2 linked regions of the Homo sapiens genome follow. The protein of the gene in region 1 purifies or fractionates together with the protein of each later gene. This does not show direct contact. Each region holds a gene or a part of one and is shown on either strand. Other genes may lie near its edges.

Evidence for each region. The genes of interacting proteins can lie anywhere in the genome.
Region 2: the proteins of BTNL3 (region 1) and CYP20A1 purify together in Homo sapiens (affinity purification with mass spectrometry; 2 studies listed by BioGRID and IntAct, with this or other methods). This does not show direct contact.

Annotation. Positions count from the first base shown.
Region 1 is NC_000005.10:180,998,438-181,005,930, reverse strand, and holds part of BTNL3 (butyrophilin-like protein 3 precursor), read right to left. Parts: intron 3,260-7,493; coding exon 3,146-3,259; intron 2,076-3,145; coding exon 2,055-2,075; intron 1,515-2,054; coding exon 1,488-1,514; intron 1,196-1,487; coding exon 1,169-1,195; intron 598-1,168; coding exon 59-597; 3' UTR 1-58.
Region 2 is NC_000002.12:203,233,694-203,242,091, reverse strand, and holds the start of CYP20A1 (cytochrome P450 20A1), read right to left. Parts: upstream 3,075-8,398; 5' UTR 3,030-3,074; coding exon 2,958-3,029; intron 2,752-2,957; exon of another isoform or gene 1,866-2,751; intron 1-1,865.

The sequences.
Region 1 (7,493 bases):
TCCCTTGGCTGTGTCTGGGTCTGTGGTGTGGGGCCCTTTAAGCAGGGTCTTCTCTGTCTCATCCCCAGGACACTGGACATATGAATATGGGAGTCCCCTTTTCCTCGTCATACATCGCATGCTGGATATAGGGTCTCAACAAGCCTTCAAACTGACATGTCAGCAGGGTATAAATAAGGGACTGGTCATTTGTATTGAAGAAGGAGATGGTCCCACCCTCATAGTCCAGGAAGACCCCTACTCGTGTAGGAGGGGTGCTGGGGGGGAGGCTGATAAAATGGGGATTGAATGTGAAATACAAATGTTCTGTTGTCAGTCTGAGGACCCAATACCCATTGTTGGGAGACAAAGTCACATTGTTCTTCCCCCTGTCTACGTCATCCCGACACACTCCCACATACCACCCTACATTTTGTCCCACGTCCACCTCCCAGTAATGTTTCCCTGCTTGGAAACCCTGAGAAGCCACCACACTCTTCCTTGTAAATCTCTTCTCAGAGTGAGGCACCTCCTGGGGAGCTTTTCTATGGGTTACAGTTTTCAGATCAGAAACGCAGAGCTTCGGGTGAGCCGTCTCTGGATCCAGAGTCACCTCCACTGGGGTGCGGTGGGGGAGAGAGGAAGCATGAGTTACTGAAGACGAAATCTGGGCTGGAGCAAGAGGTCGACCCTCCCACTGCAGACTGGCTCCGGGTAGGATCCGGCCAGTCCCACTATCCCACCAGCCATGTACCTTCTCCAGGGCAGCCCCCGTGCCTCACTGATGCTTGGAGATGCTCAACCATGAGATGTTCACCCAGCCCTACCACTGCCCTCCCACGTAAGCCCTCTATTTGACTTTGTGAGACCTTGAGTGACTCCAGGATTCAGCTTCCTTCCACCCACCAGTTCCTGCTAACTTCACTTAGTTCCCCTTTGCACAGACCCCTAGAAGCCAGCTACTAATGCCCTCAGTTCCCTGGCGTCTTGCCTGTGACCCCTCCTAGCTGACCCAGTCCCTACGCTTTTCCCTCCAAGTCCTGGGCCAAGAAGTGTATTTAGAGGCAGCTGCACCCTGGGGTGGATTCGGGCATCACAGATTTGCTGTCTACAAGCTGGATGGGCTCCATATCTGTCACTGGTCATCTTCCTACTCCATGCCCACTGTTACCCTCTCAGGCGTTGGTACCTGCGTGTTTCCGGGCGTCTCTCAATTCTGAAAGCAAGCAGAGAGAGCAGGCAGTTCCGTGCTCACGTGGGAAACAGGGCGCAGGGAGAAGGGAAAGACCAAGGATTGGGACCCTTTTTGAGTGTTGTGGACCCTCCAGAGATCTGAAGAAGGCTATGGGGCTTCTCTACAAAATGCACCTCCCCCAGAATCTGCAATTTCAGAGTTCCCATCACAAGCTTGGCTCTGCAGGGACCCACGGGCCTCAGGATATAAAAATCCATAAACGAGAGACTTGGAAAGGAGTCATAAATGTGTGAAGAGGAATATTTTCTTTTACCTGCCTGTCCGTGCTTTCTTCTCCAGTCTGAAAAACAAAAACAAAAACAAAAAACATGTAAGAGGCTGACGTCACAGAGCGGGGGCCCAGGGAGGGCGTGGGAGGGAATCCCTGCGAGTGGTAACACTCTCACCCAGTTTATCCTGGAGTTCCCACAAAACAAAAAGCAGACTATTTAGTGGTTGATACAGAACTGGATAAAGTCTCAAAGCATCAGGCCAGGGGAGGTCGAGGATCACCCACAAATTTTTCTCAGGTTCCTCACTGTGGCCCAGACACCCTCAGAGCTCATGATCAACACCTCCCCCCACCACACACACAGCAAACCAACGGGCAACAGGCACAGACAATTTGTGGGGACTTCCAGGCCCCGGGGCCTATCCTAAGCCCTCCAGATGTCCGAGGGGTAACTCATGAGCAGTGGATGGAGAGAGTGAGCAGCTGCTCCCCTCCACCTGCCGGTGCTTCCTGTCCAGCCTGCAGCCAGGGTCGTCCAGAGGCTCAAACTGTGGATCAGGGAGGGACCCGGGAGAACCATGTGTGGGAGGCTCAGGACATGACACATACCCAGTTCCGCCTGGATTTTCCCTGAAACAGAAACAGTATATTCAGTGGTGGACACAGGAGTGTGCAAGGTACAAACACGACGCTGGCTCCTTGCACAGGTGGGACGAGCTGCAGGTGTGAAGGGCAGGGCCTCTCCTAGGACACTTATATGTGCTCGTCTCCCCAGCCCCTGCACGGAGTGTGGCTCTCTGGGGTGGAGCAAGAGATCAGGAAGGTGCATGCTAAGGAGAGGGACAACAGCTGGGATGCTGTGGAGGTGGGGATGGAGATGGGAGAAGGCGGCTGGGAGGGGAGGCGGGGGTGGCCTCACCCCCAAGGGGAAGTGTCACTCCCAAGGAGGAGGAAATTTGTTCTAGGGTGAAGACTCTTACTGAGATTATCATTTTATCTCAGTCAGTCAGTTTTATTTCCTCTTCTATGAAGTCTTTGCAACCACCCTGAAATTTTCTTATTGTCTCTTGTTGTCGTTAGTAGAAATTTATTTATTTTTATATATTTATTTATTGAGTCAGGGTCTCACTCTGTTGCCCAGGCTGATGTGCAGTGGTGCGAACATGGCTCACTAAAGCCTTGACCTCCTGTGCTCAAGCCATCCTCCCATCTCAACCTCCTAAGTAGCTGGGACCACAGTCACGCACCACCACACCCAGCTAATTATTTTATTTTATTTTTTAAAAATTTTTTGTAGAGAGGAGTTCTCGCCATGTTGCCCAGGATGGTCTTACACTCCTGGGCTCAAGTGATCCTCCCACATCGGCCTCCCAAAGTGCTGGGATTACAGACACGAGCCACGGCACTCAGCCTGTTGGTAGAAATTTATGTGAACTCTTTATGTACTGAAAATCAATTATCTGCTTATCCTGTGCTCCATGTAAAGTAGAAAGGGATTGGCAGAGGCTGGCATTTTCTGAAGGAGCCATTTCAGGCCAGCACAGAGGAGGCTGAAGACTGGGTTCCCTGTGCCTCAGCTGGTGGCCCCTGTAGGCCTAGGGCTGGAAGAGCAGAGCCCAGAGGTGTGTGAGGGCAGCCTGATATCAGCTCCACTGGAACCATGAAGAAGGTATGGGCCCATGCTTCTCTCTCTCACTTACCTTTGGATTTGAAGAAAACAATTATCATCCCCATGACAACACCACACAGGGCACCACAGAGTAACCCGAGTAAAATAGAAGCCAGGCGCCAAGGTGAGGGCTGGAAAAACGTCTCTGAAAAACAGTCCCACAGACCCTTAGTGATAGCTAAGCAGGTAAGACAATTTTACGCCCATTTAAGGAATCCCCCAGTACCCCAAGATGAAAACATTTTTCTCTCATTTCTTCCACAGATTTAAAGCTTTGCATTTCTATAAACATCTTGATCCATCCGGATTTCATATATATATATATATATATATATATATATATATTCACGTGTGTGTGTGTGTGCGCGTTAAAGCTTTGCATTTCTTTATAAGTCTTGATCCATCTGGATTTCATATATATATATATATATATATATATACACACACACGTGTGTGTGTGTGTGTGTGTGTCTATGTCTAATGAGGCAGAAGTTCAATGTCATCTTCTTCTAAGCAGGTGTTGACTGTGCTGGCAATGTTTGTTGAGTGGACCTTGCTTTACACACTGCCACACATGCAAGGTCACCTCTGTGTACCTCATGTTCAAGCTTGGATTTGTTTCTGGGCTCTTTGTTCTCTCTCATTGATCCATAGGGTTATCTCTGTGCCAATAATTTTAATTGGCTTAATCTTCAAAGCTTTGGGATATGTCTCTGAGATAAGACTAAGCTTCTTAGCTTGCTCTTATTCCACTGTATCTTAGCAATTCTTGGCTATTTGTTTTGCCACATAAACTTTGGAATTGACTTGTTAGGCTTTAAGAAAACTCTGGGCCAGGTGCAGTGGCTCATGCCTATAAACCCAGCAGTTTGGGAGGCCAAAGTGGGAGGATTTCTTTTTTTTTTTAAAGGTAATGTTTATTCTTTTCTCCTTTAGATTTCTTTGTTTTGTTTTGTTTTGTTTTGTTTTGTTGAGACAGAGTCTCGCTCTGTTGCCCAGGGAGGAGTGCAGTGGCGCGATCTCGGCTCACTGCAACCTCTGCCTCCCGGGTTCACGCCATTCTCCTTCCTCAGCCTCCTGAGTGGCTGGGACTACAGGCGCCCGCCACCACGCCTAGCTAATTTTTTGTATTTTTAGTAGAGATGGGGTTTCACCATGTTAGCCAGGATGGTCTCGATCTCCTAACCTCGTGATCCTCCCGTCTCGGCCTCCCAAAGTGCTGGGATTACAGGCATGAGCCACCGCGCCTGGCCGGGAGGATTTCTTAAGGACAGGAGTTCGAGACCAGTCTAGGCAACAAAGTGAGACCCCCCCCCATCTATAAAAATATTTAAAATTAAAAAAAATTAGCCAGGCATGGTGGTGCACACCTGTGGTCCCAGCTACTTGGGAGGCTGAGGTGGGAGGATTGCTTGAGCATGGGAAATTGAGGTTGCAATGAGCCATGATTGCACCACTATACTCCAGCATGGGTGACAGAGTGACAGCTCATCTCAAAAAACAAACAAACCAAAAAATGTGCTGAGATTTTTCTATGGAATTGTATTGAATCTGTACAGCAATTCTAGGAGAACTGGTATCTTTAAAAACATGCATCTTCTTATCTGAAAGGTGTTATGTTTGTTCTCTTATTTTAGTTTTCATTAGTGTCTTTTAATACAGTTTTATAATACCCTTCAATAAGATTTTGTAAACATTTTATTAGATTTTGTTTATTCCTCTCATTTTTCATGAACACGATGGATTCCTTTATGAGTTGAAAGAATTTGTCTGTAAATTTTTCTAAATTTTCCGTTTATATCATCATATAAACTGTGAACAATGGCCATTTAATTTTTTTCTTTCTAAAAGTTATAACTTTTACATTTTCTTCCCTTATTGAAGTGGCTGCTAATAGTAACAGTACTCTAATATAATGTGGAACAGAAGTGTTTAATGCAATCTCCTTATGTTATGATTTTATTTTATTTTATTTTATTTTTTTATTTTATTTTATTTTTTTTTGAGACGGAGTCTCGCTCTGTCGCCCAGGCCGGACTGCGGACTGCAGTGGCGCAATCTCGGCTCACTGCAAGCTCCGCTTCCCGGGTTCACGCCATTCTCCTGCCTCAGCCTCCCGAGTAGCTGGGACTACAGGCGCCCGCCACCGCGCCCGGCTAATTTTTTGTATTTTTAGTAGAGACGGGGTTTCACCTTGTTAGCCAGGATGGTCTCGATCTCCTGACCTCATGATCCACCTGCCTCGGCCTCCCAAAGTGCTGGGATTACAGGCGTGAGCCACCGCGCCCGGCCTATGTTATGATTTTAAATGACACATTATGTATAATGTTTTCGGTATGTATTTAAAAAATTAGGTGGCTTATTATTTTGTATGATGTTTGCTGCAAGTATCTTTAGATATCTTTTTATCAGATTAAGCAGAGTCTCTCCTATTTCTAGATTGATAAAAAAAATTTTCTTCTATTTCTAGATTTGCAAGTGTTGAAATCATGATGAATAGATGTAGAAAGTTATCTGTTTTATTTACATCTACTAAGAAAATTATAGTTTATCTCTTTTAACGAATTATGTTATAATTACATTAATATATGTTCCCATGTTGACCTAACATTTTTTTCCAGGATAAGTTTGGTCATGATATATGTTTTTGTGGACTTTTCTACTTGCAAAATTTTTGGTAAGATTTTTACATTTTCAATTATGAGTAATGTTGGTAAAAATTTTTCCTTTTTTGAATTGCCCATTTCTCTTATGATACCAAAATTATGTTGACTCAATAAAATGAGTTTAATATTTCCTATTTTTCTGCTCTCTGGCCGACTTTCTGAAAGATACATTTTCTCTTTTCTTGAATATTTGGTAGACTTTGTATATAAAACAATGTGGGCCTTGTGTCTTCCTTGTGGGAAGACTTTTAAATGCTGAGTCCACCTCTTTCATGGTTACAAATTAGTCAGGTAGTCTATCTTTCCTTCGGATTTTGTATTTTACGTTTTTCTTCTTTTTTAAAAATTTTTGAGACAAAGTCTCACTCTGTCCCCCAGGCTGGAGTACAGTGGGGCGATCTCAGCTCACTGCAATCTCTGTCTCCTGGATTTAAGTGATTCTCCAGCCTCAGCCTCCAGAGTAGCTGGGATTACAGACACACACCACCACGCCCAGCTAATTTTTGTATTTTTAGTAGAGATGGGGTTTCGCCATGTTGGGCAGGCTGGTCTCAAACTCCTGACCTCAAGCGATCTGCCCGCCTCAGCCTTCCACACTGCTGGGACTACAGGCATGAGCCACTGCGCCTGTCCTGTATTTTACATTTTTCTATGAAAACTTTCACTTCATCATATTCAATAGAAAAGGAAAAAGTTATTCAAAGCAGTTTATCTTACAAATCTCTACTAAATCTTTAGTTGTGCCTTCTTGTTATTTCCTGCCTTGTTTAATTGTGCTGTTTCTCTTTTATTCTTAACTGATGTTGCCAGTTTATCTATTTTAATAACACTTCGAACCGTCTAACTTTAGATGTATTAATGTGCACTATTTGTCTTTATATTTCCATATTTCTATATCTTTAGGATTTCTTCCACTTTCTTTTGCTGTTTTCTGAAATATATATTGATGCCTAATATCAATATTCAGCTATTTCATGCTAATAAGAACATTTAAGCATTAAAGGATATATATATATATATTTTTGAGATGGAGTCTTGCTCTATCGCCCAGGCTGGAGTGCAGTGGCATGATCTCGGCTCACCGCAACCTCCGCCTCCCGGGTTCAAGCAATTCTCCTGCCTCAGCTTCCCAGGTAGCTGGGATTACAGGCACCCGCCACCACACCCGGCTAATTTTTGTATTTTTAGTAGAGACGGGGTTTCACCATTATGGCCAGGCTGGTCTTGAACTCCTGACCTCAGGTGATCCGCCTGTCTTGGCCTTCCAAAGTGCTGGGATTACAGGCGTGAGCCACTGCGCCCGGCCAGATAAAATTTTGACTCAGAAAACTATATTAGTTCTATTTTACACATTATGATAGATTGTAATTTTATTATCATTCAGTTTTAAGAATTTTCTACCTATCACTATGCTTTCTTCAATTTCTCAGTTATTTTAATGTTTAAAAATTTTTCAAACACATAAGAATTTAAACTATCTTTTGCTGTGGTCATTTGACTTTATTAAATTATGATTAGAGAATTTCATGTGCATGATATCTATGTCTGAAAATTTTCTTAAAACCATTGTATGTGTTTATATCTGGTAAAATTTTATAAAAGTTCCAAGTGTGGTAAAAATTAATGTATATTCTACAAACCTGGAGTGCCATCTCCAAAAATACGTTATTTCAGACTTATTAATTTTTAGTTCAAATAGTATATATTCTTACT
Region 2 (8,398 bases), on another chromosome or scaffold:
GGTGGGCAGATCACTTGAGGTCAGGAGTTCGAAACCAGCCTGGCCAACACGGTGAAATCTTGTCTCTACTAAAAATAAAAAAATTAGCTGTGTGTGGTGATGTGTGCCTGCAGTCCCAGCTACTTGGGAGGCTGAGGCAGAAGAATCGCTTGAACCTGGGAGGCAGAGGCTGCAGTGAGCAGAGATCATGCCACTGCACTCCAGCCTGGGCGACAGAGCGAGACTTTGTATCAAAAAATAAAAAATAAAAAATTTAAAAATTAGCCAGGTGTGGTGGCATGAGCATGTAGTCCCAGCAACTTGAGAGGCTAAGGTGCGAGGATCGCCTGGGGCCAGGAGTTTGAGGTTACAATGAGCTATGATGGTACCACTGCACTGTAGCCTGGGCAAGAGTGAGACTCTGTCTCTTAAATGAAACAAAACAAAAAATAAAGATTACCAATGTTATCAAATTATTAGGCCTTAACTTAAAATATCTGCAGCATTTGACTTAGCTGATTATCCTCTTCTGCTTAAAACATCTGGCTTCCTTCTATTTGTGTGGCTGCTCCTTCTCAGTCTCCTTTGCTGGCTCTTCTTTCTCTCCTCAACCATTAACATTGGAGAATCCAGGGAATGGTCCCTGGGACCTCTTCTCTCCTGTATCTAAATTGTCTGGGAGATAGCAACCAGTTCTCCTCGCTTTAAATACCATCTATACATTGATAGCTCCCAAATGTGTATCTTCAGCCTGGACTTTTCCCATAAACTCAAGACATATATTCAGTTACTCCTCAACATCTCCACTTGAATGTCTAACAGGCATCTCAAACCTAGCCCACCCAAAACCAACTCCTAATCTCTATAAATCCCCACTACCTCCCACCAAAACAAAACTAAAGAACAACCACCACCAGCAAAACCCCTGATCTTCCCTGGAATTAATCTATCCTTCCAGATACCAGGCTAAAAATAACTGGTGTTTTCCTTGATGCCTCTCTTTCACATTTCACATCCAATCCACTGGGAAATCCCATTGGCACTATCTTCACAATTGACTAGTTCTCATTATCTGTGCCACTACTACCATGATCCAAGCTGAAATGATAATATCCTCCTAATTACTTGGCTTGCTTCCATCCTTACCTGGAGACCCATGTCAATTCATGACTTAGCAACCACAATGATTCTTTTAAAATTTATCTAATAAAATTAAATTTGAATTCTATCCAATTTCAAATGGCATTCATCTGCTGAAATCCTCCAGTGGCACACAGCAAAAGTCCATTAAAAAAGCCTTACAAGTCATTTAAAATTTGTCCTTCACTCCCATCTTTCTGACTTTCTCTCCTCTGGTATCTTCCTCATTTACTACACTCTAACCACACTGGTCCCCTTGCTTTCCAGGAACACACCAGGCGTGTCTCCCTCTGAAGGTTTGCATTTGCTGCTCCCTCGACCCAGAATGCTCTTTCTCAGAATGGCTTGCACCTTCACCTTCTTCGCGTTTCTACTCAAATGTCTCCGTATCTCCTGGCCATCCTACTTTAAAATAACAATCTACCTATCCCCAACTTTATTTCTACCCACAATCCTATGTTATTTGTTTCTATTGTCTGTTCCCCTTCTCTAGGAAATAAATTCCAAGAGTCAGGAATTTTCTGTCCGGTTTGTTTCACGGCTGGATTCCCAGCACGTGGAACCATATCTGGCACATAGCTAGTGCTAAGAATAAACAGTGTGCTTCTATGAGCTGATCAAAGAAGAGTATCATTTTAAAATCACCAAAAATTCAAGAACCACTAAAATTGTTTAGTTTCTCAGAAAATAAGATTTCAGGAAGTCCCTGATTGTGTAGTTGCAAGATTCTAGTCTAATCCATTTACCTGCTCGGAAAAGAACATTTAAGAAGGTGTATGGTCAATTCCAGCAGTTCAGCTACTTTTCAACTTTCACTGTAAAACCACCACCTTGCTTTGTAGAACAGGTGTTTTTTGTTTGTTTGTTTGTTTGTTTTGAGATAAGAGTCTGGCTCTGTCGCCAGGCTGCAGTGCAGTGGTGCGATCTTGGCTCACTGCAAGCTCCGCCTCCCAGGTTCAAGCGATTCTCCTGCCTCAGCCTCCTGAGTAGCTGGGATTACAGGCGCCCGCCACCACAGCCAGCTAATGTTTGTATTTTTAGTAGAGACGGTGTGTCACCATGTTGGCCAGGATGGTCTCGATATCCTGACCTCGTGATCCGCCCGCCTCAGCCTCCCAAAGTGTGTAGAACAGGTTTTAAAGACGGTCCTCAGTCATCAACACTTTTGTTTTCAGACCCTCCCTCTCTCGCTGACGGAGGCAAGTGGAGAGAGGAGGACCGGAGGCTCGCAGAGGCGTCAGCGGCAGAGGAAACCTCGCACCCGAACCCGCAGCGCGGCGCTCTCCCCAAAGAAGCATTTGCCTGGAGCCCCTAAGAGGAGCAAGACCTGGACCTCGAGCACTTTGGATTCCAGTCAGGATAGATCGATGGACAGATGGAAAAGAGGAATACACAAGTGCTGGGAGAATCCTCAAGAAAGGAGAAAGGAGTGGCGCGCCCAGGAGTCTCGTCCTGACACACTGGGAAATGAAATTTGGGTTTGGCGAGTTATGGCCAAAAAGCTGCCCAAAGTACTTGAGAGCCGCCTTGGAGAGTGGCGCGGGGTGCCTGGCAAGGTGAGACCGGCCTGCGGGGGCGCGGGCTTTTCCTCAGCAGCTCTACGCCCGCCTGGCCCGGCGCCTGAGGGGTAGCGACGCAGCCCACGTCGCTCTCAGAGCTTGCCGGGAGGGGCGTCACGTGACTCCGGGTGCGGTCCCCGCGCTGAAGCTCTGGAGCGAACCCGAACCCTCCTCTCAGGCCCGCCCCCTGCGGCCCGCAGCGGGCAGGTTGGCCTGGATGCCGGCGACAGAGAGACTGGGGCGGCGCCCGGGGCCCCAGAGAGCCAAGACGGCGCTCACCGGATAGAGGTAGAGCACGGCTCCCACCAACGCCAGCAAGAAGGTAACGGCGAAGATCGCGAAGTCCAACATGGTTCTGCCGCCCAGGGAGCCACGTCTCGGATCGGCCGCTCCAGCAGCAGCGCCTCAGCCTGGCCCAATTTAAGGCATAGCGTGTGGGCGGGGGCACCCCGCGGGACCCGGAAACCAACGGGCCGCTGGGGGCGTGACCGAGGCCTGCGGCCGGCGCCAGAGGAAAGAGCAATGGATCGCCGAGGAGCCGGGGCGCGGGTTCCTGAGCGCAGCAGGCCGAGGCTGAGGCCGCCTAGCGCCAGCCTCCACCGCAAGGCGGGGATTTCGGTGCACACGATTTCAGACAGAATATGCCCGCGACTTCGGACCGGGTTGCTGGCGAAAGCAGAGCCCAGCTTTCTGAGAAAAGTTAGGAGTTAGTAGTGCTCTGTCCGCCCAACAGTTTTCGCAATGGATTCAGAATTAAAACCTCTAAACCGATGATTTTCGAAGAGTGGTCCCGGTACCAGCTGCATCAACGTCGCCCGGGAGCTCGTTAGAGATTCAGATTATCGATGCCGGGCGCGGTGGCTCCACCTGTAATCCCAGCACCTTGGGAGGCTGAAGCGGGAGGATCGCTTGAGCCCAGGAGTTTGAGACCAGCGTGGGCAACATAGTGAGACCCCAGTCTCTACAAAAAAAAAAAAAAAAAAAAAAAAAAAATTAGCCTACAGTGGTGGCGCTTGCCTGTGGCCCCAGCTGCTCCGGAGGCTGAGGCTGGAGGATCACTTTAGCCGGGGAGGCAGAGGCTACAGTGAGCCGAGATGGCACGACTGCACTCCAGCCTGGGCGACAGGGCGAGACCCTGTCTCAAAAACAAAACAAAACAAAACAAAAGGAAAACAAAATAAAAAGATTCTCGATCCCAAACTAGACCTACTGAATCAAACACTCGGGGTGGGCAGGGGTAGGGGGCGCGTACAACAATCTGTTTGAACAGAGCCCTCCCGGGGACACTGTTACACACTTAAATTTGAGTGAAAACCACCACTGATCTAAGCGGGACAGGGAAGTGTCTGGGAGTAAAACAAGAGTAGATACGCCTTGTTTCGCAGAATTTCTGTCTGAAGTACTAGTAAATGTGATTCTTTGACACTTTCTGGTGAGCGGAGGCTGCACACTGTTCAGGTTTCCTTGCTCTGTTAACTCTGACTTTCGGTAAATTGCTTCAGTTTTCTAAGCTTCCATTTCCTTCTATGTAAAAAAGTGAAAATAATACCACATGGAGTTGCCTGTAGGTTAAATTACATATTTTATGAAAATCACTTAGCACAGCTCCTGGCAAAACCGAATAAGTGCTATCTACGTCAGCATTTGGCGTTTGTTGCCCTGGGCATAAAATACCCTAGGACCCCTCTTTCTATTTCGCCTGGCTCAGAAGTTTTGACGTGGCTACTGAAATACAAGACAAGGCCTGCTACTTACTAGTGCTGCTTTTAGTGAAAGTGTGCTAAAAGTATTTATAGATTTTATAGCTTTAATAATATAAAATGTCAAGAACAGGCAGCAATTTGGCAAGAGAAATTCCAGATTGCATTTTACAGCTTCTATGATAAATGACTGTTACATAAGCAGGAAACATACCTCATTGAAAATGGCAACTCTTTTGGCATCTATAGCAAATATAATGAAACATGCTGTTTAATATTTCACTTGGCAGAAATTGTATTTTTAAGTCTTTCTCTGCATATAAATGTGCTTTAAACTGTCGTATGTTCAAAGTTCATTTTTAAGTCTCTTGTTCAGAATTTTAAAGATATTTCTTGTCAAACTGATGTTCCCAATAGGTTTTCAAAACAGTAAATGTAAGAGTTTTTTGTTTGTTTGTTTTGTTTGTTTGTTTTTGAGACGTAGTCTCCCTCTGTAGCCCAGGCTAGAGTGCAGTGACGGGATCTCGGCTCACTGCAACCTCCGCCTCCCAGGTTCAAGCAATTCTCCTGCCTCACCCTCCCGAGTAGCTGGGATTACAGGCACGCGCCACCATGCCCAGCTAATTTTTGTATTTTTAGTAGAGATGGGTTTCACCATGTTGGCCAGGCTGGTCTTTAACTCCTGACCTCGTGATTCGCCCCTCTGGGCCTCCCAAAGTGCTGAGATTACAAGCGTGAACCACCCCGCCCGGCCAAACATAAGAGTTTTAACTGCATAAGGTAGCCATATAACCGTAATCTTAGGTACCGTAATCTTAGGTACCAATCCTTCAAGATATCTAGAATTCTCTTTTAGTCCTAAATTGACCTACATCCTGAGACTCTCTGAACTTTGAGGGCTGTAAAAAAGAGACAAAAATTCCAGAAATTGTCAGGGCACCATATTTTATAGTGTGAGTCTCTAAACTAGACATCTACCTCCTCTTCCTGTGTTCCTAAAACGTTTTGCCCAGATACTCCCTAAAAGCATATATAAATAATATATATATAATATATATATACACATACACACATATATATCTTTTCACACATTTTTTGTATTGACATCTAAAATTTTTATCTTGACTTTAAAGGATTAAATTTCTGTCATATTATAAATATTCACGTTTTGAAATTGTTACAGCTCTCTTTTAAGTGTATGAAAAGGAATGTAAATATAATAGTGATGTGATAACTATAAGACTTTTTTTAAAAACACACAAACTTGGCCAGGTACGGTGGCTCCACCTGTATTCCCAGCACTTTGGGAGGCGGAGGCGGTCAGATCACTTGAGGTCAGGACTTCAAGATCAGCCTGGTCAACATGGGGAAACCCCGCCTCTACTAAAATTACAAAAATTAGCTGGGTGTGGTGGCATGCGCCTGTAATCCCAGCTTCTCAGGAGGCTGAGGCAGGAGAATCACTTGAACCCGGGAGGCAGAAGTTGCAGTGAGCCAAAATGGCGCCACTGCACTCCAGCCTGGACAAAAACAAAACCCAAAACAAAACAAAACAAAACAAAAAACCCATACACTTTTTGTGAACAACTGGAAATTTTCCATGGTTCCTTTTTCTGAACTTATTTTTATTGCACTTATCCGACAGAATTTTATTCTAATGAAATTATTTTTATCCTTGAAAGTAATTTTCTTCATCACCTGTCATACTTCTTCTCTTCAACATGTACTCATGTTGAATTAAAAAATAGTTTTTGGGGCCAGGCGTGGTGGCTCATGCCTGTAATCTCAGCACTTTGGGAGGCCGAGGCGGGCAGATCACGAGGTCAGGAGATCGAGACCATCCTGGCTAACATGGTGAAACCCTGTCTCTACTAAAAATACAAAAAAGAATTAGCTGGGCGTGGTGGTGGCGCCTGTAGTCCCAGCAACTCAGGAGGCTGAAGCAGGAGAATGGCATGAACCCGGGAGGTGGAGCTTGCAGTGAGCTGAGATCGTGCCACTGCACTCCAGGCTGGGCGACAGAGCGAGACTCCGTCTCTAAAAAAAAAAAATAGTTTTTGGGCCGCACACAATGGCTCACACCTATAATCCCAGGACTCTGGGAGACTCAGAAGTTCACTTGAGCCCAGGAGTTCAAGGTTATAGTGAGCTATGGTTGTGCTACTGCCCTCTGTCCTGGGTGACATAGTGAGACCTAGTCTCTAAAAAAAGTCTAAAAACCACAAAAGTTTTAAACTCTGTGGCTTTAAAAACTCCTACAAATGTATTTATTTTTTTTTTCTTTTTTTTTCTTTTTTTTTTTTTTTTGAGATGGAGTCTCCATCTGTCGTCCAGGGTGGAGTGCAGTGGCACAATCTCGGCCTACTGCAACCTCCGCCTCCCAGGTTCAAGTGATGTTCCTGCCTCAGCCTCCTGAGTAGCTCAGACCACAGGCACGCGACACCACGTCCGGCTAATTTTTGTATTTTTAGTAGAGACGGGGTTTCACCATATTGGCCAGGCTGGTCTCGAACTCCTGACCTCGTGATCCACCTGCCTTGGCCTCCCAAAGTGCTGGGATTACAGGCGTGAACCACCGCATCTGGCCTTAATTTTCTTTTTTGAGACGGAGTCTCACTTTGTGACCCAGGTTTGGAGTGCAGTGGTGAGTCCCAGCTTTGGAGTGCAGTTTGGAGTCCCAGCTGACAACAACCTCCAAATGAATCTCTGGTTGGCTACTACTAGATTCCTTAGATTGGAATTGTGAACACACAATCTTCTTAGAATATAGGGTCATTCTCAGGGTATGCTTACGTTATCACTGTCAGGTGTGTCTACCATGCAACTGTCACCACTGATGTTCATTCCTTCAGACTACGCCACCTGGGCTTCTTATGAGCTTGCTTCTAATTCCACCAAGAGGCATCAATAGGCTAAGGCTGAGAAGAGAGCAGCTTTAGAAGCCTCCTGTTTTGCTCCCTGTCAGCTCTGAGCCATATTTGCTGGCAGGAGCTACATCCCACTATATATATAGCTTTTGAGGTAGAACTTCCTCCTATGATCCTCCAACCCTCTCTGAGCAACAGTAATATTTTCTCTCCTTGCCCCTTCAGACCTAGGAGTGACAATGGTTTCCCCTGTTGGTAGTCTCTGGAGACTTCAGCATCCTTTATTGGTTCCCTTAATCCTCCCCACACTTTTGTATATAGTTTCTTCCTTAAAATCTTTTGAACCATTGGAGTGAGATACTGTTTACTGTCAGACCTGACTCTAGTTGGCACAAGGAGTGGCTCCCAGAAACAGTTCCTCAAGTTGGAATTCTAGGACCAGTTTAAACACATATTTGACAACCTCATGATGAGATTCATTCTTGATAGTGATAATGTGTAGCATGCAATGACAGCAAGATTATTCAAATTATTGCCAGTGGTGACATGGGATGGAATGTCAGTAGGGAAGAAATTTTACATGGTCAAGTGATTATTGGTAGCAACAATGGGTATTGCAAAAGATTGTGGAATAGGCCGGACGCAGTGGCTCATGCCTGTAATCCCAGCACTTTGGGAAGCCAGGGCAGACTGATCACTTGAGGCCAGGAGTTCAAGACCAACCTGGCCAACATGGCAGAAACCCTGTCTCTACTAAAAATACAAAAATTAGCTGGACATGGTGGCACATGCCTGTAATCCCAGGTTCTTAGGAGGCTAAGGCAGGAGAATCACCTGAACCCAGGAGGCAGAGGTTGCAGTGAACTGAGATGGCACCACTGTAATCCAACCTGGGCGACAGAGTAAGACTCTGTCTAAAAGAAGAAGAAGAAGAAAAAAAAAAAAAAGATGATGGGCTAGATGGCTATTTCTGACTGCATTATAGAGCTTATGAAAAGAAAAAAAAAACAAGTTTTAGGCCTTGACATTCCAACATAAGATGGTATAGATGAAGGACCAGAAGGCTTCCATTCTTCTCAAAAGAATATTTCATGGCCAGGCATGGTGGCTCATGCCTGTAATCCCAACACTTTGAGAGGCTGAGGTAGGCGGA